Regions from separate parts of the Homo sapiens genome. Here region 1 is linked to region 2. The links come from fine-mapping of genetic effects on gene expression. A gene starts in region 2. The other region holds a variant in brackets. All regions are shown on one strand. Distances are between the middles of the regions.

Region 1 (2,909 bases), 47 kb before region 2:
GGTGGATCACTTGAGGTTGGGGGTTTGAGACCAGCCTGGCCAACCTGGCGAAACCCCGTCTCTACGAAAATACAAAAATTAGCTGGGCATGGTGGCGCGTGCCTGTAATCCCAGCTACTCTGGAGGCTAAGGCAGGAAATCACTTGAACCTGGGAGTGGAGGTTGCAGTAAGCCAAGATCACACCACTGTACTCCAGCCTGGGCAAAAGAGCAAGACTCTGCCTCAAAAAAAAAAATTAGTGAACAGGTCAAGTCCAGGGACCAACTTGTGGATGGAAGCTGGTGTAGAAAAAGAGCACTGGTTGTTTCTCTCAGGGTTGTTTCCACAGGGTGAGAACACGACCCCCCTTGCTTTCCACACAAACCTGAGTGCACACGTGCCCGTGTGGAACATCAGGTGGCAGGTTCCTCCTGAGGTCAGCTGTAGGCAGAAGGCCGGTCGGAATTTCAGGAGGCGGGAAGCTTTTACCCCCAGCCACTCCAGCGCTGCAGGGAGGGTAAGATAAACACCTACATCTTCTCTACCCCCGTCCCCAAATCCTCCCTCACACTGGTACACACAGGGAGGTACACACTCTCCTCTGCACGCTGTTTATGCTTTGTGGTGGCAAACACATTTAAGTCACTACAGATGAAGAACATTTCACAAGCAGCCGTGCAAGAGTAGTTAAAATGTGTTTATTCATTTACAAACCCAGTAACATGAGAAGAAACTCAGTGGAAACCTTGCTTGGTGGAGACAGTGCACAGTGTTAGTGCCACATTCACAGGGGCAGAAATGCTCGGTCACCCTGTGCACCCAAAGTCACCCAGGATCTCTAGAAAAGATCCCACTTACTGAAGTGCCTCGGATGTCTTCAGGGCCAGATTGTAACTACACAGGAACAGGGAAGGGCTAAGCTGAACTGCAAATTGACAAACACAAACGATGAGTCACAGGACTCTACAGTAGTTACAATGGCATTTTTATATGTCCCAAGTGTTGACTGGAGAGTAAAGTGTTAACTGAGCTGCTAGAACACCCTTCACTGAAAGAGCTTTCTACCCCACGCCCATTGTTCCGAAGAAGGAGAGGCTATGTGGGGCGGATGGGAACCCACACACCGAGATGAACTTTTCTCTTTCTTCCAATCTGCACCCACCATCTGACATTCTGGAGTGTAAGGCACTAGAACCTGGCTTAGAGAATAGTGGGGCTCTAAGCTCCAGTTCTTGGTGTGCAAAGGAAATTCTGACATACATCTTTTGAAAGAGATGCTAAAAAACCCTCCCTATCTCCTGTAATTTCTGTCTTTGACAGACAGGAAAATAAGAAGGCAGAAGATGGTCTGCAAAGGATAAAAACAGGTGCATCTAAGAATGAGAAAAATGGCTCATGAAGAAATGTGTAACTCTCCAAGAGATGCAGACACTCTGCTCAGAGAAGTCAAGAACCATAAACAACTCTTCATGTTTCATGGACAAAGGGAAGGCAAAGGCATACAAAAATACTCAGTTGTCTTGAAAAGTGTACTGGTAGTGATCAGGGCTACAAAGGC[G/A]AGCCCTGTACTGACAATGGAGGAGCCTTACAACTCAGCACCTTAAATTGTTGGCCTGAAGTGGTGGCGGGGAGGGAGGCGCTGACGGAGAGACCCATGGCTCACCACTTATTGCGTGTACACAAGGCCTGGGGCAAGCCTCACAAGTCTACCATTTCTTCCACTCAACTGTGCTTCTCCTGAATCCATGTGCCTGAAATGACATATGCAAGGTGAACATTCTTTATACTGTGTTAATACTGCTTATATCAATGTTCGTGAGGGGTGTGTGGGGGATGGGGTGCAGCAGGAAAATTAGAATGGCAGGAGGTTCTTATTTATTATTAAGCACTGTTGACCAAACCTCTATCTTAGATTTTTTTTTTTTTTTTTTTGAGACAAGAGTCTCACTCTGTTACCCAGGCTGGAGTGCAGTGGTGCAATCTCAGCTCACTGCAACCTCTGCCTCCTGGGTTCAAGCAATTCTCCCACCTCACTGGGCCTCCCAAAGTGCTGGGATTACAGGAGTAAGCGACCACGCCCGGCCAACCAAACCTCTATCTTAGATGTTAAAGAAGACCCTTATTGACTACACTGGCCAAGAAGCAACAGAGATATAAAGCTGAATCTTGTAGCTAACCCCTGAAAGCAAGCCAACGCAAATTCCTCCGCCAGGCCAGTCTTCTAGTGCCAATATGGAGACTGTGGGCCACAGAAGATTCCCTTCTATTTCAGGTTCTCAAAAAGTGGTGTAGACTCAGGCAAATGCCAGGAAATGTGTCCATATGCCAGAGGAGACACAGAGCCAGAAATGAAGGCTATGGGTCCTGTCTTCAGTGAAACACTGAACGCTCTCGGAAAGCTCCCATCATTCTTGCATCGCTACTGCCACCAAGACGGTGGCAAGGGAGGAGGCTAACTTTCAAATGCATGCAACGGCAGGTAATATACTGTGGAAGCTGGAGGTTTACTTTTCATGTTTTAGTTACTTTCTTGCAAACAGCAGTCCAGGAAAGCAAGCAAGCAGGTAAAACTCCGGGTGTGCATGAGGAGATGATCCAAGGCCAGTGGGCCTCCCAGTGAGAACCAAACAGGAGTGGCCAGGCTCCACTCCTGGGGCCAGAGTGAAACCGGGGTTTAATCACTGGGCTATGTGGTCTCTGTGTCTCTGGCCTGAATGAGATCTCTTCAATGTCGGGGGACAGGGATCCCTGGAAGAGCGTGAAAAATACAGTGGTCACTGTGCAGTTCTCTCTGCTGGAGCCTGTCCTGCCATCATACAAGGTGCTGTGACAGCAATGCAAGGTGAAAGGAGATCAAATGGCCCAGCTCAGCAGTTAGTGTTTGTCCCTTTTTGCTCTTCAGAGTTCCTGAATGAGAGCTTTTCTGGCT
Region 2 (2,909 bases):
CTAAGAAGAATAACTTCTGCTAAACAACCATAAGACTGCAGCTGGCTCTACTCAGATCTGCTTATTCCAACAAGACCAAGGTGCTAGTTCTAACTTCGAGTTGTCCCTCTGTATGGCTGCAGCGTTGCGCACAGTGGACTGCCGGTCACAAGGAAGACTGGATGAGCGTGGGTTCACACAACATTTCCCACACTTGCCTCAGCAAAAGAACCACCTGGGACACTTGTTTAAAAATGACAGATTCCCACGGTCCACCTCGGCAGATTCTGATCCTGCCACTCCAGGGAGCTGTATTTTTCAACAAGTACACCAGGTGATCACGCAAGTTTAAGAAATTAACACAAGTTGGCCGAGCGCAGTGGCTCACGCCTGTAATCCCAGCACTTTGGGAGGCTGAGGCGGGAGAATCACGAGGTCAGGAGTTCGAGACCAGCCTGGCCAACATAGTGAAACCCCGTCTCTACTAAAAACACAAAAATTAGCCGGGCGTGGTGGCGCACACCTGTATTCCCAGCTACTTGGGAGGCTGAGGCAGGAGAATTGCTTGAACCCAGGAGGCAGAGGTTGCAGTGAGCCGAGATCGCGCCACTGCACTCCCGCCTGGGCGACAGAGTGAAACTCTGTCTCGGAAAAAAGAAAAAAAAAGAAAAAAGAAATTAACACAAGTCCCTGCCACTGGAAAAGCTTATCCGTCAGGCTGGCTCCTCCTCCACCACCAGACCCCATCCCGGTACATCACGTTTACATGCATGCGGAAAATGGGCTTGGAGATTCTTGATTCAAATCCGAGGTATCACACATCGGCCCCCAAAGGTCAAACATTAAGAAGGAAGCTTACTGCCCTGTCCCAGATTTTTCTAGGTGACTTCTTCCTCCGGACTCTGCAGCAGTCTTTAGTTCTAAAAGCACAAGCGGACCGCACGTCTCAACGCGGGAAAACAGTTCCATCTGCAGGGATGGAGGACCGGGCTAGACAAGCTGGAGTTGGCTCTGCGCCGCAGGGGTGTGCAAGCCCGAGACGGGGGAGCCCGAGGTCACCCCGGCCGCCCTGGCATCGGGGCTGAAGTGCAGGCTCCTGGAGGAGCGGTGCGCACGCCCAGGGGTAGCCGAGAACACAAGCCAAGGCACGAGCGGACAACCTTACGGGGACGAGTACTGGCGCCCGGACGCGACTTCGCGAGAGGCCAGGCGGAACCCACTGGAAGCGTGAGCTAGCGGGGACCACCCCCGGGCGAAACCAAAGGAGAAAGAGGGGAACCCAGGGGTCCCGGGGCGCTTAGGCCCGCGCGGACGGGGAGGCCAGAGTTGCCCCGAAGCTATCTCCTTACCTCACCGGTCCCCACGGGCTCCGCGCTCAGCTACAGCCCGGCGGGAGCAATGCGGCAGCCACAACAGTTGCCTGGGGTCGCCGCGGGCCGGAAAGCGGGGTTCGGGGATGGGAAGGGGGCGGGGCGAAGCGAGCAAAAAGTTCCGGGGAAGCCGAGACCGCGACCTTCCGCGCTTTACGGCCCCCGGGCAAGGGTACTGCCGGCGCGTGACCTCAGCAGCGCACGAGCGCGCCGTGACGCCTTCGCGGAGCCCCGCCCCTGCCACGTGGGCTTGTTTGGGTCTCGCGAGGCACCGCCCCCGCGGCCTCTTTGCCACCCTCAGAGGCGAGCTGTGGAAGCCTTGACTCTTAGGGCCGTTTTAGAACCGGGGCCTCGGACCGGCGGGGTTTCTGCACGTGGAACCGGAACATCTGAGATGATCGCAGGCCCTGTGGAGTGTGGGGAGCGCGGGAGTTCTTTCTTCCCTCGAGGCCCGTGCCAGGGCTTACTCCAAAGCCAGTGGGTCCCCAGTCCTAAGCCAAGCAGTCCCGGGGGAAAACGCTTCTCATCGCCGTGGGAGCGCGGATCTTGGAAGTGGCTCTGGGCTTTCTTGGGCGAGGCTCTCACAGAGTAGATCGGAAATCCATTCTGCTGGCCCGCCCCACCTCGGAGGACGGACTAACGGACCTGAGTTCCCGGCCCTATCTTACTCTTCTCAGCTTCTCAGCTTGGCTCAGCTCAGAGGAAGAGGAATCACTGAAGTCTCAGAGAAGTCTCCACTCATCCCTTCCTCACTGTCACATCAGCCTTTTCTTTCCTTCTAGAACTCATCACTGACTCAAGGATATAAGTTTGATGACTGTCTTTTCCACTGGTGTGACACGATCTCTGTCGACAGAACCTTAGTCTTATGCATAGCTTTATTCTCAGCACCCAGAACAGTGCCTGGCACCTCTTCCACTGAATATTATATGCATAAGGGTCTCATGCTGCAGCCACCATTGCATCTTGGGCCACACTATCCAGTTCCCGTTTGTTGGATTCAATACTGTCTCACCACACAAACCAATCTTGTGTTTTATTAATTTAAAAAAAATTTTTTTTTTGTAGAGATAGGCTCACTATGTTGCCTAGGCTGGGCCTGAACTCCTGGCCTCAAGTGATCCTTCCATCTCAGCCTCCCAAAGTCCTGGGATTACAGGCGTGAGCCACTGTGCCTGCCCCAATCTTGTGTTTTATTGCTGGCCACCTGTAGCCAGGCACTGTGCAGGATGATGGGATCCAGCAATGTACAAGAAAGAGGCGGTTTCTGCTCTTAGGGAGTGGCAGTCAAGTTCCAGGGACCCCTCTGTCACAAGGCCAGGCCACAGCCTACATAGTTTATACCCCATTTACTGGCCAGTCAAATCACACAAAGACAGCCCAGATGAGGTCTGCCAGACAGTGGACTGAAACTATGCCATAGGCTCCTGTGCTAGATAAATACTTCCATATTTTAGCTAGGATTGAATGCTTGGGGACACCTACCTGTCTAAAAAAAGAGAAAACGGCTGACCAATTTGAGACATTCTCGGGGAAGGCTTTCCTGATGCCCAGATGTGG

Evidence for each region.
Region 1: its variant is fine-mapped to the expression of PDPR in lymphoblastoid cells (GEUVADIS, PIP 0.95).

Annotation. Positions count from the first base shown.
Region 1 is chr16:70,160,285-70,163,193 of GRCh38, reverse strand. It overlaps PDPR (pyruvate dehydrogenase phosphatase regulatory subunit), which reads right to left. Exons shown (of 19, transcript NM_017990.5): 19 at 657-2,909. The region is part of intron 1 of LOC400541 (a long non-coding RNA gene); the gene reads left to right. Among named protein-coding and RNA genes, the nearest start is that of CLEC18C, 12 kb to the left of the region's middle. The variant G/A (reference allele first, on the strand shown) is at 1,539.
Region 2 is chr16:70,112,860-70,115,768 of GRCh38, reverse strand. PDPR (pyruvate dehydrogenase phosphatase regulatory subunit) reads right to left here and starts at 1,437. Exons shown (of 19, transcript NM_017990.5): 1 at 1,329-1,437; 2 at 839-948. RefSeq lists enhancers at 1-903, 1,424-1,473.